Homo sapiens: one gene and its partners. The protein of the gene in region 1 purifies or fractionates together with the protein of each later gene. This does not show direct contact. Each region holds a gene or a part of one and is shown in the gene's direction. Other genes may lie near its edges.

Evidence for each region.
Region 2: the proteins of GPATCH2L (region 1) and PLBD1 purify together in Homo sapiens (affinity purification with mass spectrometry; 2 studies listed by BioGRID and IntAct, with this or other methods). This does not show direct contact.
Region 3: the proteins of GPATCH2L (region 1) and A2ML1 purify together in Homo sapiens (affinity purification with mass spectrometry; 2 studies listed by BioGRID and IntAct, with this or other methods). This does not show direct contact.
Region 4: the proteins of GPATCH2L (region 1) and TYMP purify together in Homo sapiens (affinity purification with mass spectrometry; 2 studies listed by BioGRID and IntAct, with this or other methods). This does not show direct contact.

Annotation. Positions count from the first base shown.
Region 1 is NC_000014.9:76,154,837-76,162,041, forward strand, and holds part of GPATCH2L (G patch domain-containing protein 2-like), read left to right. Parts: coding exon 1-189; intron 190-7,205.
Region 2 is NC_000012.12:14,508,721-14,515,925, reverse strand, and holds part of PLBD1 (phospholipase B-like 1 precursor), read left to right. Parts: intron 1-4,214; coding exon 4,215-4,415; intron 4,416-4,525; coding exon 4,526-4,666; intron 4,667-7,205. UniProt on the Homo sapiens protein: In view of the small size of the putative binding pocket, it has been proposed that it may act as an amidase or a peptidase.
Region 3 is NC_000012.12:8,853,510-8,860,714, forward strand, and holds part of A2ML1 (alpha-2-macroglobulin-like protein 1 isoform 1 precursor), read left to right. Parts: intron 1-618; coding exon 619-740; intron 741-1,270; coding exon 1,271-1,322; intron 1,323-1,999; coding exon 2,000-2,083; intron 2,084-3,654; coding exon 3,655-3,831; intron 3,832-3,997; coding exon 3,998-4,079; intron 4,080-4,436; coding exon 4,437-4,593; intron 4,594-7,205. UniProt on the Homo sapiens protein: Is able to inhibit all four classes of proteinases by a unique 'trapping' mechanism. This protein has a peptide stretch, called the 'bait region' which contains specific cleavage sites for different proteinases.
Region 4 is NC_000022.11:50,526,968-50,535,162, reverse strand, and holds the start of TYMP (thymidine phosphorylase isoform 1 precursor), read left to right. Parts: upstream 1-5,150; 5' UTR 5,151-5,259; exon of another isoform or gene 5,260-5,443; 5' UTR 5,444-5,453; coding exon 5,454-5,667; intron 5,668-5,824; coding exon 5,825-6,027; intron 6,028-6,552; coding exon 6,553-6,651; intron 6,652-7,445; coding exon 7,446-7,575; intron 7,576-7,879; coding exon 7,880-7,998; intron 7,999-8,195. Other genes in the region: CIMAP1B (ciliary microtubule associated protein 1B), read left to right, coding at 3,086-3,194, 3,390-3,593, 3,868-3,972, 4,105-4,505. UniProt on the Homo sapiens protein: May have a role in maintaining the integrity of the blood vessels. Has growth promoting activity on endothelial cells, angiogenic activity in vivo and chemotactic activity on endothelial cells in vitro. Catalyzes the reversible phosphorolysis of thymidine.

The DNA of each region.
Region 1 (7,205 bases):
CAGGTTCAAGTCTGCTAAGAAGCAGCGTCTGTCCCGCTGGAAGGAGAATACTCCCTGGACCTCATCAGGCCACGGATTGTGTGAATCAGCAGAAAATAGGACTTTCCTAAGCAAAACAGGAAGGAAAGAAAGGATGGAGTGTGAAACAGATGAACAAAAACAGGGCTCTGATGAGAACATGTCAGAATGGTGAGATCTCCCTTACTAAGTCAAAGATTTTCCTGGTTAATTTTTCCCAAAGTGCACATCCATGGTCTTAGTGGGTTCTACCTTCTTTCAAACCAGCCACTCTAGTATTGACTTTGAAGCCTTCCTTGAATCAATCAGTAGTTTAGCTTTTTAAGGTACCATTCATGAGTCTATTTCCCTCTGTCAGGAAGGCTATATGTAATAGAAACACAGTTGTTTCTAAAAACTGTTTAAAACGCGTACCTCAAATGCAAAACTAATAATTTTATTTTAAAAAACAATTTGCTGCTTATTATGCCATACAGTTTATACATAAATATTGTTGTTTAGAACTCAGGTCTCAGCAGAGGCTGGTGTGTGTGTGTGAGAGAGAATATGCTAGCGCCAGGTATACGGAGTTTATAAATGTTCCATTAAGTTGCCTGTCCTCATTAAGAATCATGGCTTTAGATGCTTTTTGGCTATAATTCTGTTTTCTGCTACTTGTGGTTTGATTATATTGAATTTATTTTTTTATGGCTGACATTCAAATTGTCTGAACACATGGTGGGCTTTGAAAATAACAGTACCGAGTCCCATTAGTCTTACATCAGATGTGATCAAGCCAGAAAAATTTGTCTCTAATGGGTACATGTTTAAAAATGTAAGTGTAGTTTTGGTGACTTTTTATTTTTTACATCTCAGATAGTCCTAGGAACATTGATACCCCCCAGCTTGATACTTTAATGTTATTAATATTAATCTGTGGTTATCTTTTTCTTAATAGTGAGGATGCCATTGGTGTTTTGGATGGGACAATTCTTTATGGTGCATTGCAGAATATTTAGCATCTCTGCATTATTCACACCCCCTTTTCATTGTATCAACCCAAAGGCCTCCAGGGGTGATCCCTAGGTGGATTGAGTACTCCCAGTTGAGAACCAGTGTATTCTATTATTGTTAATATTAGTTGGCATTTATTAAGCACTCAACTATGGGCCAGGCACTGTACTATGGACTTAGCATATACTCTTATTTAATGTTCACAATTCCACTATATGGTGGATACCACTATTTGTATTTACAGAAGGGAAGTTGAGGTTATAAGAGCTTAGATAATTTGCCTAAGATCACCCAGTGCCAAAACTGGGAATCAAGCCTGATTCCAAAGCTCATTCTTAACCACCATGTTGTGCTGCCCTTTGAGTTGTTCTGTCTCAATTTAACTTTCCCAACTGTAGAACATATGACCTTTCTGAAGTTTAGCTTAAAAACAAAGACATTAATCTTAGGAACACTGAGGTGAGGCTGTGTCAGTAACAGGAAAAACTGTTTAGGTCTGTATACCTGTACCTTTCTTGAGTGGTTTTTAATCCAGCTTTTAAACTTTTTCTTATTAACTTTATATTTGCCAGTCTGCAGACTATATTGAGATAGGCTCATAATTTGACTTTCCTAATTTTCCTCTAATGCCTCATTCCTTCTAAGGTCTATTTGCAGAATTTATATGTATATATTTGGATTATAAAGGTATTTTTCCCTCATCAGACTATTTTTAATCAAACAAGAAATGCTTAGTCAACTTGTAGCCTTTCACACTATTGAAACCCTCTATTGAGACATTCAAGTTTGTTTTAATATTGAGCATATATACCAAATAGAAGTCTTCTTAGTATTGAGAATGGTGATTTTAAAAGTAGCCTTTTGGGATAGTAGCTTTGTGTATGTTTCTTCCCCTTAATTTCTTGTTAAACTACGACATAATTGTATGTGAGAGAGCGACTGTTAACTCTGTCTGCTCTAACAGCCCAAGTATGGCTCCAGATGCAGAGCCTGTTTTCTAGCATGAGATGCTTCACTCTTTTCTGTTCCTTCTTACTCCAGACACATCTATTGCACATTCTAGTCAGGATGTAATAATGTAAATTCTCGTTATCTGAGAGTCTGGATAACTTAAGTGGATGGGAATTCTTATGAAATTCTTACTCTTTTCAAATTGAGGAGAACTCATTCACCCATTTGGGCTATTATCCTGGCCCCTCACTTCAGAGTTCTTTCAATATGTAGATGCTAAAGGGTTGTAGCTGTGAAGGAATAATGGGCGGAGTGGTGGCACACACGGCATTGAGGAAAGTTCTTTAAAATCTTCTAGTTATTTAGGAGTTCTAAATTCCCCTTGACTTGTCTCGATTCATTTGTAGTTACAAACAGAAGTGCTTTGTATTTTTTCCCCCTGAATCCATTCTGTGGGGAAAGGGGGTGATTCTTACTCTTTGACTGAATGTTGTGTTCAGCCTCTCTTCAAGAGGAGAGTGGAACTAAAATCTCCCTTAATTGTTAGGCACACCTTTAAAAAGGGCTGGCATTAGAGTGTAAGGAGATAATAGTATATGATTTGGATATTATACTGTCTTGATGAGTTGATTCTGTCAATAATTTTCTACTTTATTTTTTCCCTGCATTTTTAAAAGAAATACTTTCAAGAATCTTCTTGGTTACCCTTTCATAAATCTACTTGGATGTGCCACTGTTTATTCACATACAGATCAAAATGTAGAATTTTACTTTTTAGCAGTGGTATTGAGGGTTGTCAGAGTAATGATCCACATTGTAAGATTATTAAGATGAAGTTGATTGTTAAGCTTAGCTTAGCCTAGTCAATGGTAGCGTTTTTTTTTTCTAAAGCATGTATTAGATGTTTTAGATTTGAAAATGTGTGTCTCAATCAGCTTATTTCTAATTTCCTTAAACTCACTCTTTGCGACCTAAACATGGAGTATAGACTTCATCAATATTTGTTTGCTTTTCTGTTTCTGGTCTTCCTTTAATATTACACCAGCCAATCCCTCACAAGTTTTGAGGAACTAAAAATGGTTATAGTATAGTAGTTTTTTTCTGCTTGCATAGAGATCAAACTATTATTTTAATATTTTTCTGTGTATGTGTGTTTGTGAGTATTCTAAAGCAGAACAACTACTGTAAAATTATTTTCTACTGATCTTTATTTAAATTGTCTGTATAGCAACTATTAATAGCTATTAGCTATTAGGTGACTGTAGCCTAATTTTGCTCTATTCTTTACTAACACATCATTTGTTTGTTCCCCTTGAATATAGTTTAGCTTCTTTTTTTTTTCATAAGTGAATTGGTTGGGTGATGGCCAGAGGTCACATTCAGGAGCCTTCCTAAGGTGATGTATTAGAGGCTGATCTCACAGGAAAGAAAATATTCTCCTCTCTTGGAAGGCAAGTGACAGAGATAGAGTGCTAAACCTACCCACTCCTTCTCCAGCCCAGGCTGACCTTCTGCGGCCCTTTGGTGCCTCTTGTTTTCTTATTTTTATAGAAAATCAATATCCCTTCTGATACAAACAATAGCTCAGAAGCAAGAATAAGTGGGAGAAAGCTGAGATCTCTGTCCATCACCTCTCACTTTAACTCCCCCAAACTCTTTAATTATGAGTGTGCTTTGCTCCAGGTGTTTGTGACAGTGAAATTGCTAAATGAGGACCATTTTAACCAAAGATTGGGTGATCAATAACACTCTATAGCAGTAGCTTGTTGGATCAATAGCATTCATTATTTCATGGTTAAGGTAAGTAGCCTCCTTTGCAAGTGGAGGTCATTAATCAGGGTTTCCTGGAGCTGTGTAAAAGAATATGTATGGTAGGTGGGGGTGTTCTGTTTTCTATTCTGTAAGTAGGGATGCTGACCAAGAATATATTTACCATTGTTGCAGTTGGTAGTATTGCATGTGAGATTCTCGAATAGCTAGCATAGTGTGCTTATGTGGGTATATTCACAGTTCTGCTAGTATCCTTAGGGACAACTAAAACACACAGCTTGGGAGGTCGATATGATACTATTGTACTTGAAGGTCTATCTCTTGAAAGAAACATCCATCTCGTAAAAGAGTCTACCTCTTAAAAGAAATATTGGGATTGTTCTGTGTGGCTCCACAGGACAGAACTCAGGGATAGAGAGTACAGAGTGTTAAATGTTGCTGCGGTTAAAAAATAAGATTCTAAAAATTAGGACTCTGTAAAAATGAAGTGAATTGTTTCACCATGTAATGCGTAATAACTTCTAGATCAGGTGGGGGGATTCAAACATGGGCTTGATGACCGCTTACTTAGTTGCTGTGGAGTTGAGAAGGTTGAACTGAAGGCTTCTGAGATCCCTTGTAACACTGAGATGCTGCGATTCTTTTCAGTCACAGTCTACTTCCCACCATTGTAATGTCTTAACTGGTAAGTAGCCTCAACTGCCCACTTGAATTCTTGTGGTTCCCACTGGCAGTCATCTTCAAAGATTCATTCTTTCTCTCAACTTTTAGAATGATATTCCCTTTTCTCTTATTTCGCAGAATTTGTTCAAAGGCCTCTTGGTATTTGCCAGCAAGGGTGCATAGATTACCCTTGGTCCCCTTCTCTACTCCCGTGGACATAGGTAACTGCCATTCTCAGATCTACAGCTGGCCAAGAGAATATGCAGAGCCCCTAGCCCAGTGCTCCCAGTGCTACTGGGAGGCTTTTATCTCATACAGCTATGCTGGACTGAGATAGGATCATCTAACCCTCACTGCTTGATTCTGACCCCATTCCAGGAGTGTGCCGTAAATGAAGGTGTAGAAAACACTGCAGTCTCCAGAATGTACTGTCTCCAGAATGCACTTCTCTGCCCATGTCAACTGGAATCTTTGTTCTTGAAGACTATACTTTCTAGGACTCAATACCCTATAACTGCTTCCTACCCTCAAACACAAATACACACAGAAAACACTAAGCTTCCCTATCCAAGTGTATTCTGGGAGTTAGAGCCACCAAATAGAAACTGAAAGATACTCAGGCCGGGCGTGGTGGCTCACGCCTGTAATCCCGGCACTTTGGGAGGCCGAGGCAGGTGGATCACAAGGTTAGGAGATCGAGACCATCCTGGCTAACATGGTGAAACCCCGACTCTACTAAAAATACAAAAAAATTAGCCTTGGCGTGGTGGTGGACGCCTGTAGTCCCAGCTACTCAGGAGGCTGAGGCGGGAGAATGGTGTGAACCCGGGAGGCGGAGCTTGCAGTGAGCCGAGATCACACCACTGCACTTGAGTGCACTCGAGCCTGGGCGACAGAGCGAGACTCTGTCTCAAAAAAAAAGAAAAAAGAAACTGAATGATGCTCAATGGGAAGAGAAGGATAGAACCACACCCTGCCTCAACCTGTAGCTGCCTGATTTTCTGACTGAAACTGGCCTTGCATTTCTGAACTGCAAGGTGACTGTAGAGAAAGGATGCAGGGGCTTGCTATCTACCTTCAGGGCAGGCTCAGCACTTCTAACGTGGGCCTCCATTTCATTGTCAAGTGTGGTTCTATCAGCCTTGTAGTTTGAGGAAATCTTGGCAATAGGCCATCTGTATTCTCTATTGCTACAGAAAAAAATCGCCCTAAAACTTAGTAGCTCTAAACAAAGAGACCAAGTCTGTGAGTATGTAAATATTCCCAGGGAAGAAACCAAAGTGCTGGAGAAGAAGATACAACTGAAGAGAAAAAAGTGTTCTTGAGTTGAAAAATTAAGTCTTAAGATTAAAAGCGAAAATTAATGAGAAGAGACTTCTACTGAGACGGAGATTTTAAAAAAATATTTTATTTTAGTTTTTCTTTTTTTCACATATGCTCAAGACTAAGGAAAGAAAAATCTTAAAAGGGGTTGAAGACTGGGTGCAGTGGCTCAGACATTCTTAGATATGCAGGCCCCAGAATCCATGTTCTTTAAAAATTTACTGTGAGAAGACGTTCCATCTACCTGAAGATGAATCACTGTTAGCTCTAAGAAAAGGGAAGTCTTGAAAGGATGGGTGGACTTCTCTGAGGCACAGCCCCCAGCTCAATAGCAGAGTCCTGAGGAAAATTCTGTCTCTGCAAAGTATACCTGATTGTACTAGTCACAGTATCGAACCTGTCAACCTGCGGAGGTTGCTGCCTTTCATGGCACTGTCTGAATGAAACTGAAAAAGAAATTCTTTTATTATATATTCTCATTACTTATAGGAATAATTTCAGAACTGATGTGAGATATTTCTCTGAATAACCTCTCCCTCAGTCTTGTTTACTACTAGATTCAGAAGTCTGATTACAAAGGGTTACCAGTGTGCCACCTCTACCCTGGAAAAAAACTGGAAAACGATAGAACAAAAATACCTTTGGGCAGTAGATCTAAGAGTGACTTTTTTCCACGTTTTTCTAAATTCTGAAACAACTTTTATTTTTGTTAAGTGCATTATTATTTACTAAGAAAAGTTTTTTAGAATGACGATGTAAGCCATAAACTTTAAGATATCTATTAATTAGATGCAAAAAACACCTCTTATTAAGCTACTTGGTTAATAAGCTCTTAAATGGGGAGAAACAAACCCAGATGGTAATTTATTAATACCAACTTTTGATTGTAGGTGATAAAGTAATTCTGTACCTCCTTATTATAATTGGAACAGGTATAAGTTACTCTTTCAGTTCTCACTTTACAGTCTTCTGTGGTTAGGAGTATGAAAGAATTAGCAAGCTCTCAGATCAGAGGGTGTGCTGTGCTTTTTTCCCACCCCCTGCTCCCCCTGGCAATTTTGGGAATTCAGAGGGGTTTATTTTGTTGAAACTAGAAGCTACTGTTTAGGAAGAAGGGAATTAATTTCAACAAAGAGTTTATAAAGATTCTGTATTATCTGTTGCTGCAGAAAAAATTGCCCTAAAACTTACTAGCTCTAGGACGGGTGCGGTGGCTCATGCCTGTAATCCTAGCACTTTGGGAGGCCTAGGCGGGTGGATCACCTAAGATCAGGAGTTTGAGACCAGCCTGACCAATGTGGTGAAACCTTGTTTCTACTAAAAATATGAAAATTAGCCAGGCGTGGTAGCACAGGCCTGTAATCCTAGCTACTTGGGAGGCTGAGACAGGAGAATTGCCTGAACCTGGGAGGCAGAGGTTGCAGTGAGCCGAGATCGCGTCACTGCACTCCAGCCTGGGTGACAGAGCGAGACTCCGTCTCAAAAAA
Region 2 (7,205 bases), on another chromosome or scaffold:
ACCACGCCCGGCTAATTTTTTTTTTTTTGTATTTTTAGTAGAGATGGGGTTTCACCATGTTGGTCAGGCTGGTCTCAAACTCCTGACCTCAAATGATTCACCACCCACCTCGGTCTCCCAAAGTGCTGGGATTACAGGCATGAGCCAGCTTGGCCTTTTTAAATATTAAGTGCATGTACTTGAAAGTAGGTACACATGAAGATAAAAGAATAGGCTCCAGGAAAATTTAAGTCAAGTCTTCATAATCTATAAAATTGCCTATTTAATAAATATATGTTGTAAACATTTTTAATGTTCTGTAATTACTGTTATTAATGTCATGTTACCTCTTTGATCTAGGTACTTTGGTCATAAAGCTGAAGTATATAAAAACAATCTATATTTAGTACAGACCAAAATTCATGTCCTTTGCTTTTAAAAGGTAGAACCAAGAAAAAAAAAGCAATAGCAGAATACGGGCACGTATTCTAAAGAATTATAAATGGATTTTGCAGCACTTAATTTCTGTTTTTTTTTTAAGTACCTTTCTTTGATTCTTTGTCTCCTCATTGGTACCATCCCAGAACACTGATGTCTTCTGCCAGATCAGACCTGTCTTGATCATCTTCCCCACCTAAATCAGGATGTGTCCTCCCTTCTACCTTTCCAGAAATCCCACCTTAGTTTTCATACTTTTCTTGATTAACTGGTCATAAGATGATTTCCCTCAACTCCACCCTGTCTCAACATGCAACTCCCCATGAGTCAATCTTCATAATTGTTTCTAATGTGTTTGTTCCATGGTGTGTGTTGAGTAACTGTTGTTGCCATTTGCATGACTACATAGTGGTTACTGTTTATTTCTGCAGTTTGGTGTTTTTTTTAAGTCTTGAAATAGGATTTATTAACCGGAAGTGTTTCTTTTTATTTCTTAATTAAATTCAGTGAGAAGCTTATCATGAAATGTTATTCTTAGGCTGGCATTCATAAAACACTGGAGTGTTTCATTTTCTCCTGATCTCAATCTGCCTTCCAAAGCTGCTAATGACAGATGAGAGCAAGATTATAATTTTAGTTAGGGTGTGGTGGCTCATACCTGTAATCCCAGCACTTTGGGAGGCCAAGGCTGGAGGATCCCTTGAACTCTAAAGCTCGACACCAGCCTGGGCAACACAGGGAGACCCTGTCTCAAAAAAAAAAAAAATTTAAAAAGATTATAATTGTATGTAGTCAAAGAAATGTGTTTCTTTTCAAAGGCAATGTGTCAGAACTTTGTCCCATCTCTGGGCCTTTTCTTTATTATCTTAAACTCTAAACTATAGAATTAGCCTCCTCAACTATAGTTTTTGCAGGCCAGTTCACTCTCCTTGCTCTAGAACTCTGGATAGCCTATATATTTCCATCATCCTGTCTCTTTCATAAAGAATCTTGCCTTTAAATGAAAGACTACTCCTTAAACATTAGTACTTGTAATATTCAATCACCTACACATATTAAAGAACGCCTGCCCTCTTGTGTCCAGGGAGACTGCTACAGCAAGTATTGAATTAGCAAACTTGTCATTCCGGAAATACAGCATTCTACCCTACAGGGATTATCTACCAGGGAGCTTTCTCAAGGCTGCCAAGTATGGTTGTACAGTTTGAAAAATGATCCCAGCCCAAGACACGAATGCAATCCATTTTACACTCTGTCAAGCCATATATCCTTGCCCAGGTCATGTCTTTCTAGAGAGGTGACCCATTAAAATTTCATTCAAGAGTACTGTTAAACCTTGTACCACTTGGAATGTGCAACTTTCTCTAATTTACACAAAGCTCTCTATAGCTTAATGGCAGCCGTGTAGAGGCTCATTAAGAGTTAGTTGGGGCCGGGCACGGTGGCTCACGCCTGTAATCCCAGCACTTTGGGAGGCCGAGGCGGGCAGATCATGAGGTCAGGAGATCGAGACCATCCTGGCTAACATGGCGAAACCCCGTCTCTACTAAAAATGCAAAAAATTAGCAGGGCGTGGTGGCGGGCGCCTGTAGTCCCAGCTACTTGGGAGGCTGAGGCAGGAGAATGGCGTGAACCCAGGAGGTGGAATTTGCAGTGTGCCAAGATCACGCCACTGCACTCCAGCCTGGGCGACAGAGCGAGACTCCGTCTCAAAAAAAAAAAAAAAAACTAAGAGTTAGTTGGACAGTCCTCTCATCGTGTAACTTTCCTACTCAAGAAATTTCAAGAAATTAAAATCAGATTGTTAGAGCTGAATAGCTGAATGACATTAGTCCCAGGTTATCAGAAGAAGGAAATAAGGAAGAGAGAGGCAAAATAAGAACTGTCAAATTCATTAGAGGCAAGCAGGAAACTAAAATGCAGGTCTTCTGACTCCCAGTCCATGCTCTTACCTCCGGTTTCAGGTGACCCGTTTCTTTGACCCCACCTTACTTATTCCATACTAGGCTAGAATAGATGTGTAATAGCATGCATAGGGCTGGTGGGGTGATTTGAGGCAGTATGTGGACAAACATTTTTTGCACATTAGTAGAAATGTATTTGTTTTAATGTATTTCTTTGGGAAAAAACAAAAACATTAAGTCCATAGTTTCTGAGACATTATGATATATGACAAGGGTAAGTTAAGTTTGAAAAGTGAGTTAATTTGAAGAAAGATATTAAGTAGTGCATATGTTAATAGCTTGATTTAGCCATTGACAATGTATACATATATCAGAATATCATTTTGTATGCCAAAATATATACAATGTTTCCTTGTCAGATATCAAAATATCCTTTCTTTTGTATAACATAAATATATATAATTTTTACTTGTCAGTTAAAAAATAACAAAAATATTAACTAAATGATAGTTCAGATAGTACTCAGATATGGCAAAAATGATAAAAGTGGTAAAAAATCATGGTAGAAATTTGAGACCATCTCAGTCCATTCTGACTACTATGACAAAACACCTCAGACTAGGTAATTTATAAGCTATAGAAATGTTATTGCTCACAGTTCTGGAGGCTGGGAAGCCCAAGATGAAGGGACTGGAAGACTCAGTGTCTAATGAGGGTCTGTTTCTCGTAGACAGTGCCTTCTCTCTGTGACCTCACATAGTGGAAGGGGCTAGCTAGCTCCCTCGGGACTGTTTTGTAAGGGCCTTAAAACCCTTCAGCAGGATGCACCGAAGGAACTTACCACTCTGGCCCCTTCTAACCCTACCACTGAGGTCCTTTTCTGTTTAACACTGACAGTTGTTCCATTACTGTTACTGATGACAGTATATCCTCTCTTTTTATTACAGCTGTGCCTGATATTCTATCCTTTCCATACTCATCCCAGTATAAACCACAAAATAGGTCTTCAGAAAAGACTGTGGCTTCACTGATTTTCCTGTGTTGCCTCCAACATTTATAAAAAAGCATTGACCAAGAGTGTCAATGCCCTAGTTTCAAAACCATCTTTACTTTTCTAAATGTAGATGTTTTTCCATTTATAAAAATTATGTAGACTTAGCCGGGTGTGGTGGCCCACACCTGTAATCCCAGCACTTTAGAGGCTAAGGTGGGTGAATCACTTGAGGTCAGGAGTTTGAGACCAGCCTGGCCAACACGGTGAAACCCGGTCTCTACTAAAAATACAAAAATTAGCCAGGTGTGGTGGTGCACACCTGTAACCCCAGCTACTCAGGAGGCTGAGGCACAAGAATTGCTTGAACCCAGGAGGCAAGGTTGCAGTGAGCTGAGATCATGCCACCACACTGCAGCCTGGGTGACAGAGTCAGACTGTGTGTCAAAAAAAAAAAAAAAGTAGACTTATACAAAATTTGAAAAATACAGGAAAGTAGAAAAGAAGAAAAAAAGGCATTTATATTCTTACTAATGAACCCTGCTAATCCCCTCCCTAATTAAAAATTCTCCTGCAAAATCCTAGCAAGTCGGGATCTACATCTGTTTATCATTCTGGAAGCTTGCAATGTTCTGGATTTAACATATTTTTGTTATTTCAAATCACAAAATAAATTTTCAATGGAGAATCCAGGGGTGGAGTTCTTTTGGCACCTCTATAAGGGGCAGTTGGGTGACTACCACAGAGGTGAGCCAAAGCTGGGGGAGGCTACTGCAGATCAAGGATAGTAATAACTGATACACTTTGCAAAATGCATTGTGTATGTAAAGCTCTTTGTCAATAATGATGGTTCACTGTTCCATGTATACATATGCTGATGTGTATATTTGTCTTTCCTGTAGGGTTTTTGGAGTCTCTGGATGATTTTTACATTCTTAGCAGTGGATTGATATTGCTGCAGACCACAAACAGTGTGTTTAATAAAACCCTGCTAAAGCAGGTAATACCCGAGACTCTCCTGTCCTGGCAAAGAGTCCGTGTGGCCAATATGATGGCAGATAGTGGCAAGAGGTGGGCAGACATCTTTTCAAAATACAACTCTGGTAAGTGACCCTGCAGAATAACTGTTAGGCACAGACATATATTTTGATTTAGGCTTGTTAACCAGTAAAGTCATACCCATGCCCCGTCTTCATGTTTCCTGATATTTCAGGCACCTATAACAATCAATACATGGTTCTGGACCTGAAGAAAGTAAAGCTGAACCACAGTCTTGACAAAGGCACTCTGTACATTGTGGAGCAAATTCCTACATATGTAGAATATTCTGAACAAACTGATGTTCTACGGAAAGGTACTTTCTTCATGTCGTAAGTCTTAAAACCTGATGAGTATGTGTGTGTTCATATATGGTAGGGGAATGCACATTGTGTGAATGTGTGGTGGGGGAGGGTATGGTGGGGAAGACAGGATGGGGATGCTATATTACACCAGAATGACCAGGTTTAGCACAACATGTAAACCTACATCTCAAACTCTTATAGGACAATGTGCAGATTGGGACGCAAATCAGGCATTCATGACTCTATGATTTCTCATAGTTCTAATGTTACCTTTTCTCCTGTGTTCCTGGTTAAAGCTTTAAGTTCAATTCAGCAAATATTTTTGGAGTGCCACTGTGGCCCAGGGACTAGAAAAGCAAGGATACAGAATCCCTGACCTGGAAGGACTCAGGAGTCTAGTAGGGAAGCAAAGCACTCAAAGCAGCTGCAGGAACTCAGGATGGGAAGAGCTGTCATCAGGTCTCATGTCCCTAGGCCAGTGGTGAACCTAAACAGAACGTGGCTGTTAGTGGGTGGAGTCAGAGAAGGCACTTCTGGTGGGCAAGAAGGAGTCCAGACATTTGAAGCCAGGAGGCTCACTGCCTTGATTCAAATCTCAGTTCCTTAAAATCTCAGGCAAATTAGTGAATCTCTCCAAGCCTCATTTTCCTCATCTATAAAACTGAATCGTGATATAGGTCCACAACCACGTATTTGTAATTTTAAAATTCCAAAATTGTAAAACCACAAATTATTATTTTGTTTCTCTTGTTTTGCTTTGATTTGGTAGCCTAGCTCACTTGGTAGCAAGAAAATGACCTGATCTGAACTCACTTGGCAGCAAAAACTACCAGAAAGAAACTTTTAGTGGTTTTTAATTTTAATTTTTATTTTTCTTCAGATGGAGTGTCGCTCTGTCACCCAGGCTGGAGTACGGTGGTGCGATCTCGGCTCCCTGCAACCTCTGCCTTTCGGGTTCAAGCGATTCTCCTGTCTCAGCCTCCTGAGTAGCTGGGACTACAGGCACGTGCCACCACACCTGGCTAATTTTTTGTGTGTTTTTAGTAGAGACGGGGTTTCACCAGTTGGCCAGGTTGAACTCCTGACCTCAGGTGATCTGTCTGCGTCGGCCTTCCAAATTGTGGTGCCCAGCCTGTTTTTTTAAATTGTCTTTATTTCCTCTTAGAGACACCATGTATACATTAGGCTACAGAAATATCAACATCTTTGATTATGAGGTGTTTCCCAAAGAGACTGTAATGTCATATAATCCATGCACTCCATGGTTGTTCTAAAGTCTGAAAAACCCTAAATTCTGAGACTCATCTGGCTCCCAAGAATTTCTGGATGTGGGAGTGTGGAACTCTACAATTTCACAGGATGGTCATGAAAATTAATTAAGATAAATAGATAGATTTATTGAGAGAAAATGTTAGCTTTAAAAATCCTACTGGACAGTTCAGACTTTATGTTTTAGAAATTGGGAGTTCCTGACAAGGGAGAATAGACTGGGTGGGAAGAAAAGAGACTAGTTAGGAGACTATTGCAATAGATCAACTGGCAGATGAATAGGGACAGAACGGAGATAAAGTGTGGACCCTAGGGATCAGGACCTGGTCCTCAGTTTTCCAGGTCCCCAAATTGACTTTGTAATGATGCCTAGAGTGAGCCTTGTCAGTGGAGAATGGGTCACACCAACTAAATGCACTAAGACTTATGCATAAAACAAAAGGTGGGAGTTTCATTGCCAAGCAGTTCATATGCTACCAAGCAGTGGACCTACCTTCTTCTTTGCTTGTTAGGAAAATCCATCCAAGAAGTCAAATCATTAGGTGGTTACTGTTTAGCATAGAGCAATTCAAAACAGAGAACCCAGCTCCTAAGAGCCTGAAAATAATAGCATGCCTCAAGAGAGAGAGATGCTTGCTAAAGTAGTCTTTTCTTCTTTGGACAGTTGCTGATAACAGAATGGTAGACTTGGTTCTCTGCAGTCCCATTCCTAGACCCCTTGAAACTCCCTAAGACTAAAAAGAGTTGATGATGATCTGTCTGTATTTTTTTTTCTTTGCCAGAGGAGAGAAGAACAGAGAGTTAAATTCAGAGTACCTACTGCATTCTAGACACTCTTCTGGGCCTTTTACTTATGTTCTCTTGTTTGATGTTTGTAACATACTACCCCATAAGTGTTATTGTTGCCATTTTACTGTGAGTAAAGAAAAGCTCAGAAAGAAACATGTTTTGCCCAAACAAATACATGATATCATATAGCCATTAAAAAGGCGGGGGCGTCGGGGTCGGGGGTGGGCACATCTCCTAACGTATTTAAGCAACTGTGGTATGGTGATAGAAGCCCTGGATGTTTTAGTTAGAAGGCCTGTATTCTGTCAAGTTTTGTGAGCCAAGGAAGACAATTGACCTCTCTGAAACTCTGTTTCTTCTGTTTAAAAAAGGGATGGTAATACTTATACATCATCAGGTTTTTGTGAGATTAAACAAGCTGCTCTATTTTCTTTATTTATTTTGAGACAGGGTCTCGCTTTGTCACCCAGGCTAGATTGCAGCTGCGTGATC
Region 3 (7,205 bases), on another chromosome or scaffold:
TCATGAGGTTGCAATCAAGCTGTCAGTCAGGACTCTGGTTTCATCTGAAGACTCGACTAGGAGAGGATTGATTTTTCAAGCTCATCCCAAAGTCTCTGATCCTTACAGGCTGCTAGACTGAAGGACACAGTTCTTGACCTCAGCTTTTGGCTAGGGGCCTCACTCAGTATCTCATCACATGAATCTCTCTGCTGGGCTGCCTCATCACACAACAGCTGTCTTCCCCAGAGCAAGCAGTTTGAGAAAAGGGGTGCACCCAAGATGGAAGCTGCAGTCTTTTTTGTAACCTAATCCCAGAAGAGTCATTACTTTCACCCTGTTCTCTTTAACAGAAGCGAGTCACTCAATCCAGCTCACACTCAATGGATGTAAATATCAGGATGCAGGGATCTCTGAGGGCCCTTAGAGGTTACCTACCACACTGGACTAGCCTCTCTGGCATCACCTGGGAGCTTGTTAGAAATGCAGAATATGGGCCCCACCCCAGGTCTATGGCAGCAGAGTTTGCACTGTTGCAAGATCCCCATTAAAGTTTCAGAAATGCTGATCCAAATGGGAATGGACCTCACTGGTACCTCTGGCAATAGGGCTAATGGCTTCCCTTCTTCTTTCTCTCAGGTCACATTAACTTTACTATTAGTACAAAGATTCTGGACAGCAATGAACCATGTGGGGGCCAGAAGGGGTTTGTTCCCCAAAAGGGCCGAAGTGACACGCTCATCAAGCCAGTTCTCGTCAAAGTGAGTTTTCTTCAGAGGTAGAGACAGCAACCAACCGAGGGATGCTCAGCATCTCGTCTTGCTGTGAGTTAGTCTCTCACAGCAACCATACTCCAGTCCAACCAGGCAGCTTCAACTTTCTCCTTCCCTGGCCCCTTGAACATTTGCCTAATCCACACCCACGGCCTATGAAAGCACCTAAAACCCGGCACCTCATAGGCACTCAACAAATGTTAGTTTACCTAATTAAAATGTCTGTCTTCATCAATAGCTGCCTTTTTCGTCCCATCATGAAGCCCATTGTCAATCTTGCCTCTTAGAAGTTGCCTAAATGTGTCTTTGGCTCTAGCACTTGCCCAGAAAGAACTTTACAGAAAGGGCCCATCCTTGGGTTGACGCAGAGTTCTTCTGAGCTTCAGTGAGAAGCTCTTGTCTGCAGTTCTGAGGGAAGCCCTGGGGGCACAGCGAGGGGCCTCCCTTCCCTTTCCTTTAGTGCCATCCCTCCTGATGTTCATCTTTGTTGTTTTTATCTGTGTCTCTCTTCATCGCAGCCTGAGGGAGTCCTGGTGGAGAAGACACACAGCTCATTGCTGTGCCCAAAAGGTGGGTGGACTCAGAGCAGGATTGGTGGTGAGAATTCCCTTAGAGGGCAGGAGATTTTCTTTTCATTTTTTTTTTTTTTTTGAGACGGAGTCTCGCTCCGTCGTCCAGGCTGGATTGCAGTGGCACGATTTCAGCTCATTGCAACCTCTGCCTCCCGGGTTCAAGTGATTCTACTGCCTTAGTCTCCTGAGTAGCTGGGACTACAGGTACATGCCACCATGCCTGGCTAATTTTTGTATTTTTAGTAGAGATGGGGTTTCACCATATTGGCCAGGCTGGTCTCGAACTCCTGACCTTGTGATCCTCCTGCCTTGGCCTCCCAAAGTGCTGGGATTACAGGCGTGAGCCACTGCACCCGGCAGCAGGAGATTTTCATAGGCAAAAGGAGGAATGCATAGTACCAGAAGGAATAGGAGAGTCTGAAGTGCCATTCCTCATGGGGCTGATTAACTGGGAGGCAGGAGGAAGAAGAGAAAGTGTGCAGCACGATGATGACTCTCTGTGGAATTTATTTTCAGCAAGATCACTATGAATAGTACCCAGTGCTTTCTGCATCCCAGAGAAAGCACCGAGTACAGAAATCCCTGGATTATAGAAAGTTCTTCTAAAATTTTGTCTTGAGAACCCCTGCCATTCCCCATCTTCTATTGTGTCACCTTTTTTTCTGCATCTCACAGGAAAGGTGGCATCTGAATCTGTCTCCCTGGAGCTCCCAGTGGACATTGTTCCTGACTCGACCAAGGCTTATGTTACGGTTCTGGGTAAGCAGTTAGAGATTCTTGACTCAGAAAGGAAAAGGCGAATGGAGGCTGCAAAGGTGTGGAGTGGGGCGGGACATACGGACCTATCCGGAGAGTGTAACTAATAACAAGTGATGAAGGAAAAAGAGCGTATTTTATATAGGAGGGAAATACAGTGTAGGCAACAGTACAGATGGGATTAGACTTGTACTCTAGTTAAAAATGGAAGAGAGTCAGGGTAGGAAGAAGGTAAGGTCGCTGATGCTTGATTTTAGGTTTAGACAGTCTATAAATTGGGTGAAGGGAAAACAGAATATTTGCAGCAACCATTTTCAAAACTGAGGAATTTGGGTATAGTTTAGGGAAGATACAACCATATTTACAATAGGCAGCACACTTACTGTTTGGGGCAAGGGAGGAAGTGGGTTGAAAAGCATGAACGTAGAAATCATATCTAACCTGTCATTTAATAGCCATGTGACCCTGAACAAGTTAGTGAACAGTTCTGGGCCTTCTTTCCTCTTCTGTAAAACAGTGATAATAACCTACCTCTCAGACTGGTGTAAAGATTAAATGCAATATAAAGTCCCCAGCACAATATCTAGCATGTAGTAGGAGCCCTATGAATGTTAGGCTCTTTCTTTACTCCCTCACCCTCTATTGAGATCCTTTGCAGTCACAGTGTCTCTGTTTTGTCTATTTTATTCGTAAGTCTGACATAGCACTTATCTTATTGTATTAGAGTTCACTGTCTATATCTGTCTTCCACACTGTGTTGGGGGCTCCTGAAGAGGAAGGGCCACATCTTTTTCTTTTGTGTTCCTAGTACAGTTCCTGCAACATAGTTGACATTCAGGACACATTTATAGATTGAATTGAGCTTGTTGGCTACAATGCAGATGTTAATGAGTCACTTATGTCAGGTTCACTGGCTTGGGAAGTATATGAAGGGGTCAGTGACAACTTGGAAAAGAGTGTCAGAACTGTGTTTTAGAGAAACTTGGTGATTTGGAGGGTGAGGAACGTACATGCAGTGGTAGAGGAGCTTAAGAGATTGATCCTAAGTGTTATAAGTTTTGTCACATCACTCATCAGCTCAGTGACATGTCTTCTTAAAAGCCCTGAACTCTCTTAGATAGCTTATGTGCCTCTCCGTGTCCCCTAGCACCTCGTACATATCCAGTATGACATTGTAGTACTGTATTAAAATTGTTTATAATGAATAAAAATTGTAATGTGTTGTAATGGTTTGCTCCTCTGTGAGTTTTTTTGAGGGTAGAGACCGAGTTTGATTTACTGTGGTCTTCCCAGGACACACAGTAGGTACTTTTTTTTTTTTTTTTTTTGTATTTTTAGTAGAGACAGGGTTTGTCCATGTTGGTCAGGCTGGTCTCGAACTCCTGACCTCAGGTGATCCACCCTCCTCGGCCTCCCATACTGCTGGAATTACAGGCGTGAGCCACCACGCCCGGCCCATAGTAGGTACTTATTAAATGATAGCTAATACGTGTTTGTTCAGTGAATGATGATAACTCTTAGAGGGTCCCTTCTTCTCTGTACCCCTACCTTCTCTCTCTCCTTTTGGATCCCAGGAGACATTATGGGCACAGCCCTGCAGAACCTGGATGGTCTGGTGCAGATGCCCAGTGGCTGTGGCGAGCAGAACATGGTCTTGTTTGCTCCCATCATCTATGTCTTGCAGTACCTGGAGAAGGCAGGGCTGCTGACGGAGGAGATCAGGTCTCGGGCAGTGGGTTTCCTGGAAATAGGTAAGTTGGTTCAGTCTTTCTTTCTTGAACACTCTCCTCCACTAGGCCCTATGACAGATTGATGATACAGGGAATTCCAGCCCCTCAAGTGTCCCATATCCTTGAACGGCATGGGGGTGTTTTCTGAAGTTGTCGCTGTGATCTAAAACCACATTTGGCTTCCCAGGGTACCAGAAGGAGCTGATGTACAAACACAGCAATGGCTCATACAGTGCCTTTGGGGAGCGAGATGGAAATGGAAACACATGGTAATATCACCCAATTCCCAATGAGTTCTGTACTCCAGAGCATAATTCCTGAGCCCTCTGGAACTATTCCACTACCTCTCCCCTTAACCCCTTTCCTTCTTGCACTCAGTCTTCTACCTCTTTAATACTGTTTATTTCACCCTCATGGATGGTCAAGTCCCTCGATCTTCCTGAGCTTGTGCCTCCCCTGTTCTTGTCCTCATTGGTGCCCATTAATGCCTCTCTTTTCTAGGCCTGCTATGGCATATGTTCCCTCAGCTCCCCTTCTGGAAGTATACACCCAAATAAATGAAGAAATGATTGCACCCTCACCTGGAAATTCCTCTTCATGCCATATTTTCCTCTTTACCCATGTAGGCTGACAGCGTTTGTCACAAAATGCTTTGGCCAAGCTCAGAAATTCATCTTCATTGATCCCAAGAACATCCAGGATGCTCTCAAGTGGATGGCAGGAAACCAGCTCCCCAGTGGCTGCTATGCCAACGTGGGAAATCTCCTTCACACAGCTATGAAGGTGCGGATCTGTCCAGGAGCCTGCAGCCAACCACTGTCTCGAAGGACCCCACACCTCTGACCGAGTAGAAGCAAAAGAGCACTGGCCTGGGAATCAGTTTTCTCCTGATCTCCACTGTGGCTCTGGGTGACCGTGATCAAAATGCTTAGCTGGTCTGGGCCTCAGTTTTCATGTCTGTAGAATGAGAATACAGATGAAGCCTGGGTGCAGTGGCTCATGCCTGTAATCCCAGCACTTTGGGAGGCCGAGGCGGGCAGATCGTTTGGGCCCAGGAGTTTGAGACCACCCTGGGCAACATGGTGAAACCCCATCTCTACAAAAAAAATATGAAAAATTAATCAGGCTTGTTAGTGCATGCCTGTAGTCCCAGCTACTTGGGTGGTTGAGGTTGGAGGATCACTTGAACCCAGGAGGTCAAGCCTGCAGTGAGCCGTGATTGCACCACTGCACCCCAACCTGGGTGACCGAGTGAGACCCTGCCTCAAAAAGAAAAAGAGAATGTGGACTGGAACATGGTTCTCAAAGCATAGTTCCCAGATCAGGAGCATTGGCATCACATGGGAACTTGTTGGAAACGCAGATTCTGACTCCCAGCCCACACCTACTGAATGAGAAACTCTGGGAGGGTGGGCCAGAAATTTGTGTTTTGACAAGCCCTCCTGATTATTCTGATACACACTGAAATTTGATACTACTGGACTAAAAGATCTCTGGGCCTCTTACTGTGTCACCAAATCCATCTGGGAAAGCCATTTCCTGTGGTGAGGACTAGTAGGCAGCCCAACGTCTTTTGTAAGAAGTTTACTCTATTGGGCACTATTCTAGGCACGTGGTTTATTTGATATTATTTCATGTTTACAACAAATCAATGAGCTAGGTATTGGTATGCCATTATTAATCCCATTTTACAGATGAAGAAACTAAGCCATGGAGACTAAGTAAATTGCCCAAGGTGCATGCTAATAAGTGGCAGGACTGAGATTTGAACCAGGCAGTTGCACTCCAGAGGCACTGCTTTCTTCTGTTCACTACCTTGTCTGTACCTGTCCCAAGCAGAGGGCGAGGCGTAGATCCTGCAGGATAACTTGTTCAATTCAGGACACACTCAGTGCAAGAAAGACTTGTATAAACTTTTCTAGAGAGATCACTTACATTGCTATTCCAGGGCAAGGATTAAAAATCTTGAGTGTTAAAAAAAAAATCTATTTATAGGATTCATTAGTCTTCCTCTGCAGGATCTTATTAGTCTCCCCTAAGTTTTTGTCTTCTTCTTCTCTTATACACTGTATGAAATATGCGTGGGGGCCAGGCGCAGTGGCTCATGCTTGTAATCCCAGCATTCTGGGAGGCTGAGGCGAGTGGATCATGAGGTCAGGAATTAGAGACCAGTCTGAAACCCTGTCTCTACTAAGATAAAGGACTTGACTAGAGCAAGATCTCAGAGGTATTCTTCCTTCTTTCCCTTTTTTTTCTTTTCTTTTTTTCTTGAGACAAGAGTCTTACTCTGTTGTACAGGCTGGAGTGTAGTTGCGCAATCCCAGCTCACTGCAACCTCTACCTCCTGGGTTCAAGTGATCTCAGCCTCCTGAGCAGCTGGGACTACAGGCATGTGCCACCATGCCTGGCTACTTTTTGTATTTTTAGTAGAGATGGGGTTTCACCATGTTTGGCCAGGCTGGTCTTGAACTCCTGGCCTCAAGTGATCCACCCGCCTTGACCTCCCAAAGTGCTGGGATTACAAGCGTGACCTATGCGTGCCCAGCCTCTTCCTACTTTCTTTTGAGAGCAGGCCAGTCCATTGAGAAATCCATCCTCTGTGTAGCCAAGGTTAGTGGTGTGGCACATGAGCTCCAGAGTTAAATGTCCTGGGTTCAAATTCCAGTCCTGCTGCAGATGAGCCATGTAACCGTGAGCAAGCTATTTAATCTTTTTATTTATTTACTTATTCATTTTTTTGAGACAGGGTCTCACTCTGTCACCCAGGCTGAAGTGCAGTGGCACGATCATGGCTCACTGCAGCCTTGACCTCCCCGGGCTCAGATGATCCTCCTACTTTAGCTTCCTGAATAGCTGGGACCACGGATCCACGTGCCACTACACCTGGCTAATTTTTGCAGGTTTTGTAGAGTTGGGGTTTTACCGTGTTGCCCAGGCTGGCCTCAAACTCCTGAGCTCAAGCGATCCTCCCCACCGACTTGGCCTCAAGCTGGGATAATAGGCATAAACCACTGTGCGTGACCACAAGCTATTTAATCTTGTTAAGTGTTTGTTTTCTTATTTATAGAATGAGGATAATAATTTGAGTAGATATTTTTAAAAATTTGCTTAGCTCTTTCTGGGAAAGGCGATAAGCAGGGAAGGTCTCACCTAATCTCTGCTGGAGAAGGGCTGGGTATTGTGCTGCTTGAGGGGAGCTGCATGTGAGGAGGCTCAGATGCGGTGATGCGGCAGATTCTCTCCTTATTCCTCCCTTCTTTAAAGCTCTTACCCTTCCTAACTCCTTCTCTTGGGTTTCTTAAATACCCACTCAGCTGAAGTCCACATGCTGCCTCCTGCAGGCTGTTTAAGGCTGTGCAGTTATGAAGTCCAAACTGTTCCCTCTTTGTGTGTCC
Region 4 (8,195 bases), on another chromosome or scaffold:
TCTTTTTTTTTTTTTTTTTGAGATGGAGTCTTGCTCTGTCGCCCAGGCTGGAGTGCAGTGGTGCAATCTCCGCTCACTGCAAGCTCCGCCTCCTGGGTTCACGCCATTCTCCTGCCTCAGCCTCCCGAGTAGCTGAGACTACAGGCGCCCGCCACTATGACTGGCTAATTTTTTTTTGTATTTTTAGTAGAGACGGGGTTCCACCATGTTAGCCAGGATAGTCTCGATCTCCTGACCTCGTGATCCACCCGCCTCGGCCTCCCAAAGTGCTGGGATTACAGGCGTGAGCCACCGCACCCAGCCATAATGAAGTCATCTTAAAATGACTATAAATTTTCCTCAGAACATGTAGGGTCCAGCCGTACGGGGCTTAGTGGGTGTTCTCCCCGTGTGCGGAGATGAGAGATTATAATAAATAAAGACACAAGACAAAGAGATAAAGAGAAAACAGCTGGGCCCGGGGGACCACTACCATCAAGAGGAGGAGACCGGTAGTGGCCCCAAACGGCTGATATTTATTGCATACAAGACAAGGGGACAGGGTAAGGAGGGTGAATCTTCTGAGTGATTGACAAGGTGAAGCATGTCACGTGATCACAGGACAGGGGCCCCTTCCCTTTTAGGTAGCTGAAGCAGAGAGGGAAGGCAGCAAACGTCAGCGTTTTCTTCTATGCATTTCTAAGAAAGATCAAATACTTTAAGACTTTAACTATTTCTTCTACCGCTATCTACTGTGAACTTCAAAGAGGAACCAGGAGTATGGGAGGAGCATGAAAGTGGACAAGGAGCGTGACCAGTGAAGCACCACAGGGAGGGGGTTAGGCCTCCGGATGACTGCGGGCAGGCCTGGAAAATATCCAGCCTCCCACAAGAAGCTGGTGGAGCAGAGTGTTCCCTGACTCCTTCAAAGAAAGGAGACTGCCTTTCGCAGTCTGCTAAGTAACGGGTGCCTTCCCAGACACTGGCGTTACCGCTTGACCAAGGAGCCCTCAAACGGCCCTTATATGGGCGTGACAGACGGCTCACCTCTTGCCTTCTAGGTCACTTCTCACAATGTCCCTTCAGCACCTGACCCTATACCCGCCGGTGATTCCTAGGTTATATTAATGATGCAACAAAGAGTAATATTAAAAGTTAATGACTAATGTCTACACTAATGATTGATAATGTCCATGGTCATCTCTATATCTAATTTGTATGATAACTATTCTTACTGTAACTATTTTCTTTATTATACTGAAACAGTTTGTGCCTTCAGTCTCTTGCCTCGGCACCTGGGTAATCCTCCGCCCACAAGAACACAGCTTTAGCTGCCTCCTGTAGGAGTTCAGTAGGAAGGGAATCTACCTTTGTAGTGTTTGATATGTAGTTTTAAGGAAGGAGACCACCCCTCATATATATGTCTTATGCCCAATTTCTGCCTCCAAAGAAAGAAAAAGTAAAACCTAAAAGACAGAAATAAAATCCACAGGCAGACAGCCCAGTGCCGCGCCCTGGGCCTGGTAGTTAAAGAGGGACCCCTGACCTAACCGGTTATGTTATCTGTAGATTCCAGACATTGCATGGAAAAGCACTGTGAAAATCCCTGTCCTGTTCTGTTCCGTTCTGATTACCCGGTGCACGCAGACCCCAGTCACGTACCCCCTGCTTGCTCAATCGATCATGACCTCTCACGCAGACCCCCTTAGAGTTGTGAGCCCTTAAAAGGGACAGGAATTGCTCACTCAGGGAGCTCGGCTCTTGAGACAGGAGTCTTGCCGATGCCCCCGGCCGAATAAATCCCTTCCTTCTTTAACCTGGTGTCTGAGGAGTTTTGTCTGCGGCTCTTCCTGCTACAGTTTGTAACCAGATTATTTCTGACAAGTTTTGATCCAGGGTTTTTTTTTAAAGATTTGTCAATTTCAAAATATTTGTTTGCTCCTGCTTCCTGTTCTCTCTCTCCCTTTTTTTTTCTTTTTTTAAGACAAGGTCTCACTCTGTCACCCAGGCCGGAGTCTAGTGGTGGGATCACTGCTCACTGCAGGATCCAACTCCCAGACTCAACAGATCCTGCCGACTCAGCCACCGACCCCATAGCTGGGAATACAGATGTACATCATCACACCCAGCTAATTTTTAAAGTTTTTTGTCGAGATGGGTCTCACTGTATTGCCCAGGCTGAGTTTTCTTCTTCTTTTTTTTACATTTTGTTTGCCTAGAATTGTATTTGATTGTAATCAAATCATGTGTCACATCTTTTTTTCAATTTGTGTGATTATTTTGTGGCCCAATACATGATTTTTTTTGCGAATATTTCATGGACTTAAATAGATAAGTCCTCTCTCTACACATAATTAAATGGAGTGTGTGCTTTGCATTATTCAGTTCCTTTATTCCCATCCTTGCTTTTGTCTGCAGATTTGTCCTATTCCAGAATGGGTATACTGAAACTTGGGTAAGGGTGAGGCCAGCGTTCTGGGTGGCCCAGGCTACTATCCCACCCGTGCCACAGAATCCACACAGAGGCCCAGCGGCGGCACTGGGTGGTGGGGAAGGGGGAGGCGGACCCAGGTTGGGGGGGCAGGCAGTCAGTGCGGTTGCCAGGAAGCGGGAAAGGGCCACAATGGGGTCTGGGAGGTGGGCGGGGCGGAGCGGGGATGTCCAGCCACGTCGCTTTGTTTTCCCACGCTAGGAGCTACCACAACAGGTCAGTGCACCTCGGGGCACCGGGTCCCCCACGCAGGCCCTTCCCGGGGCACCCTTTCCCAACAGCACGAAAATCTCCTGCCCCCACCCCACCCCCAGGTGATTCCCTTCACCAAGTCTGGGTCTAGACTTGGCCCCCGCGAGTTCACGTCCCTGCCTAATGCGCCTGGAGTCCGGGTGATGGCCCTGGATCCGCTCCCGGCCCCAAGCTCCACACAGCCGGGAAGGAAGCTCGCGTTTGTTTTGCTGGCGCCAGGGATACGGTCCAGGCCCCGCCCCGCCCCGCGCTGATCCCAGGGTAGTGGGAAAGTGCGCTCCCCAAGAATTTGCGGTGCAGGGGCCGCGGCCACCGCCTTCTGTCCGCAGGTGCTGCGAGCCGTAAGCGCCCCCCACCCGCGCTATGGGCTCGGACGCCTGGGTGGGCCTTTGGCGGCCACACCGGCCCCGCGGCCCCATCGCGGCGCACTACGGAGGCCCCGGGCCCAAATACAAGCTGCCGCCCAACACCGGTAGAAGGGGCAGGCCCCGGGATTGAGGGGTGGGACGGCGCCTGGGGGAGGGAAGGGGAAGAGACCAGGGAGGCCTGCGCTCGGGGCTGAACCGTGCCTGCTAGAGGGGAGAGGGGGTCTGTGCCGGGGGAGGGTCCGTGTTGCAGATGGGGCTTGGGGCTGGGCCCGGCCAGACGCTAACTCGGATGCTCCCAGGCTACGCCCTGCATGACCCGTCGCGGCCGCGCGCCCCCGCCTTCACCTTCGGCGCGCGCTTCCCCACGCAGCAGACGACGTGCGGCCCCGGGCCAGGCCACCTGGTGCCCGCTCGCATGACCGTGCGCGGCACCGACGGCGCCCCCGCCTACTCCATCTACGGCCGCCCACGCCGCTCAGCGCCCTTCCTCACTCCGGGACCTGGTCAGGACCCCCGGGCCCCTGGCCACCCCAACGCCGAACTGCCTCCAGGGAGGCCCACCTGGGAACCCCCGACCTGAACCCCGAGTCCCCCTCGGATACCCTAACACCGCATATTCGGTACCCCCATATCCGGATCTCAAATCCCAAACCCCGAACCCCACGGGGCTTTGATAAATCGTGGCTCAGACTCCCCACTAGTCCCAGGACCCCATCTCGGGTACCCACCAGGCTCCCACGCAGTTCTAGCCCCCCACACCCTTGATCCGCCCCGCAGGCAGGTACTTCCCGGAGCGAGCGGGGAACGCGACGTACCCCAGTGCGCCTCGGCACACCATTGCTCCCCGAAACTGGGGTGTCCAGGCGGAACAGCAGAGCCCAGGTGAGGTCAGAACGGCCCATCCCAGAACTGTGGGCCTTCCCACTCGAGACCGGGGACCGCCCTCCGGGAGCTGGGACCACCCTGCGCCTGTCCGCGGAGACCCACTACCCCCGAGCCCTGCCTCCTCCCCAGGTCCCGCGGCCTATACGGTGCCCTCGCTCTTGGGTCCGCGCGTCATCGGCAAAGTCTCCGCCCCAACTTGCTCCATCTACGGCCGCAGAGCGGCTGGCAGTTTCTTCGAGGACCTCAGCAAGGTGGGGGAGGGGCCGGGGCGGACGCAGGGGGTCCCTGGTCCGCGGCAGTGGAGGCGGCAGCCAGCACCCTCTGCCCTCTCGCAGACCCCGGGCCCCTGCGCCTATCAGGTCGTGAGTCCAGGGGTCTACAAGTCCCGGGCCCCCCAGTTCACGATTCTGGCGCGGACTTCGCTCCCCCAAGACAACACTCGGAAGCCAGGGCCCGCGGCCTACAACGTGGATCAGGTGGCCTGGAGCCCAGGGTCAAGGGTCAGAGTCAGGAGAGTGGGGAGGGCCTGAGGTCGGAGTGATGGGATCAGAGTCCCCGGGGGTCCAGGGGTCCCGGCGCGGAGAGGATGCCGGCCCCGCGAGGTCAGCGGTGTCTCCGGGCCCGCAGCACCGGAAGCCCCGCGGCTGGAGTTTCGGGATCCGGCACTCGGACTACCTGGCCCCGCTGGTGACCGACGCGGACAACTGACCCGCCAGGCGGGAGCGGCCCCACACGTGTTTGCTTAAAGTCTGCGAGTCCGCATCGTGTCCGCCTCTCTCTCTCTCTCTCTGCGCGTCCTGGCGCAAGGCCTGGGGTGGAGCCACGGCTGGGGCCGTGTCCCAACTCCGAACCCAGCGGGGCGGGGCCCGAGCGTCGGGCGAGGCCGGGACCCCAGCGCTGCGCCGCGTCCGAACGTCGAGACCCCACCGAGGGCGGGAGGGGGACTCTCGGGAGCCACAGACGCCCGAGACCCACGCCGGGCGGGACCGGCCAGGGATCACCCCCGCCGACGGCCCCGGGCCCCGACGGCCCGGAAGTTCCGCGTGTCCGGGGGCACCGGGGGATTGGCCGGGGCGCGGCGTGCAAGGCTTCCCGGGGGCGGCGACTGCCGAGCTCCGCCCTCCAGGCGGCCCCACCCGCCTGCCGTCCTGGGGCGCCGCCGCCCCGCCGCCGGCAGTGGACCGCTGTGCGCGAACCCTGAACCCTACGGTCCCGACCCGCGGGCGAGGCCGGGTACCTGGGCTGGGATCCGGAGCAAGCGGGCGAGGGCAGCGCCCTAAGCAGGTACGGGCGGGGCTCAAGTCGCGAGGCGGGGAAGCGGGAGGCAGACACGGACGAGGGCGACACAGACACGGGACCGAGGGGCGGACACCGGAGAGACACGGGAAAGGGGTCGGGACAGGAGCACGTGGCTCAGACACCGACGCCGGGAGGCCGCAGACCCCGGACGTGTCAGGCATCCCCGCAGGCCCGGAGCGATGGCAGCCTTGATGACCCCGGGAACCGGGGCCCCACCCGCGCCTGGTGACTTCTCCGGGGAAGGGAGCCAGGGACTTCCCGACCCTTCGCCAGAGCCCAAGCAGCTCCCGGAGCTGATCCGCATGAAGCGAGACGGAGGCCGCCTGAGCGAAGCGGACATCAGGGGCTTCGTGGCCGCTGTGGTGAATGGGAGCGCGCAGGGCGCACAGATCGGTGCGTGGGGAGGGTTGGGCGTTCCTGACCCCGACTGGGAGGTCAGCCCGAGAGACTTTGGGTCCCTGGGGGTGCGACGGTGCCCCACTACCAGCACCGGCCCCAGGGTGCCCCACCGCTGTGGGCTGCCACCCTCACGCGTACCCCCACATACCAGGGGCCATGCTGATGGCCATCCGACTTCGGGGCATGGATCTGGAGGAGACCTCGGTGCTGACCCAGGCCCTGGCTCAGTCGGGACAGCAGCTGGAGTGGCCAGAGGCCTGGCGCCAGCAGCTTGTGGACAAGCATTCCACAGGGGGTGTGGGTGACAAGGTCAGCCTGGTCCTCGCACCTGCCCTGGCGGCATGTGGCTGCAAGGTTAGAAACCACCTCCTTTCCAGACGGGAGCCTATACCGCACATGCAGCAACCAGTCCATCCACAGGCAGCTCCCAACCTCAAGCCTGGCCCAAAGCCTCCAAGACCCTACCAAGGCTTCTCCCCACCCTGCTCCCCAGCACAGTTCTCCCCACCCCGTTCCCCAGCACAGCGCTTGGGGCCCCTCTGGCTCCAGACCAGGCCCCTTGGAGCAGGAAAAAGATCCACTGATGGAATTCAGACCCCTTTCCCCTTGGGTCCCCAGACAGCTCCCCCAAGGGAGGAGCTGAGGACTTTCCTCCCTCTGCCCCAAGCCTTGTTTCCCCAAGGACAGGTACCAACCTCCTCCCCTACTGACACTTCTCAACCAAGAAAACTTCCTTTCCATTCCCTCACCAGCTGGGCACCCCTATAGCTGCTTAAATACTTTCCAAATCCAGCTGCACTCCTAGCCAGGGAAGGTGAAGGGATGCACAGAGGTGGGGGAGGGGTACTGTGCAGGGTACTCAGCATCCCTGACCACCAGGTGCCAATGATCAGCGGACGTGGTCTGGGGCACACAGGAGGCACCTTGGATAAGCTGGAGTCTATTCCTGGATTCAATGTCATCCAGAGCCCAGAGCAGGTACGGGGCGCCACGGATCAGTCATTAATCCAGGTTGATGATGGAGACCCTGGCCAGAATCACTAAAAGATCACTGGTGGATCATTAGGGTCACTAATGAGAACACTGGTCAAGGTTACTCATGAGTCACTGGGCCTGGGCCGAAATCATCAGTGGAACTTTGATTAGGATCATAAAATGGGAAGTTGGTCAAAATCACAGATGGCTGGCGGGGCACGGTGGCTCACACCTGTAGTCCTAGCACTTGGGGAGGCCGAAGAGGGCAGATCCCTTGAACCCAGGAGTTCAAAACCAGCCTGGATAACACGGCAAAACCCCATCTCTACAAAATAGTTCGCTGCGTGTGGTGGTGCACGCATGTGGTTCCAGCTACTCAGGAGGCTGAGGCAGGAGGATCACTTGAGCCTGGGAGGTCTAGGCTGCAGTGAGCCGGGACGATGCCACTGCACTCCAGCCTGGGCAACAGAGTGAGACCCTGTCCCAGCACTCTGGGAGGCAGAGGAGCCCAGTTGGAGATCAGCCTGGGTAATATAGTGAAACTTGATCTCTACAAAAAAAAGAAGAAAAAAAAAAGCCGCGTGTGGTGGTGCGCACCTGTAGTCCCAGCTACTGGGAAGCTGAGGTGGGAGGATCACTTAAGCCCAGGAGGCAGAGGTCACAATGAGCCGAAATTGTGCCAACTGCACTCCAGCCTGGGCAACAGAGGAAGACTCTTCACAGAAAAAAAAAAAAAAAAAAAAAAAGCTGCTAAGTCATTTACCATAAGTCACTGAGAACAGGGGATGTCTGACCAGATGCAAGTGCTGCTGGACCAGGCGGGCTGCTGTATCGTGGGTCAGAGTGAGCAGCTGGTTCCTGCGGACGGAATCCTATATGCAGCCAGAGATGTGACAGCCACCGTGGACAGCCTGCCACTCATCACAGGTGACCTGACTCCATGGCCTGCTTCTGCATGTTCACAGGCTCCTGACCTCCAAACTCAAGTCAAGGGCCTCTCGTTAGGAGTTACCCGTCACCTGACCGTGTGCCCCCCTACCCCCATCACAAGATGCCTGACCACCACCATGTGGGGTGGCCTGATACTCAACCCACCAGGTGCTGCCACCCCCATAATAAGGGACTTGACCCTCAATGCTCAGGGCCCCTGACCCCAAAGTCGGCATCCCCGAACTCTCCCAAGAAGCTCCAGGTTCTCCATTGTCTCCAACCTCCTCTGCCTCCCCCAAAGCCTCCATTCTCAGTAAGAAACTCGTGGAGGGGCTGTCCGCTCTGGTGGTGGACGTTAAGTTCGGAGGGGCCGCCGTCTTCCCCAACCAGGAGCAGGCCCGGGAGCTGGCAAAGACGCTGGTGAGCGGTGTGGCCTTTCCCTGGGCAAGCGTCTTGATGCGGGCCCAGCCTACCCTTCACCCCTCCCGTCCCCACTGCCTCCCTCCACTCAGCAGTCCTGCCTAACCCCAGTCCCACCCTCTTCTGCCCGAAGTCCCTCCCTCCTTCACGGCTTCCTAACCTGCTGTGACTTTAGAGGTCAAGGCTGGCCCGGCCTG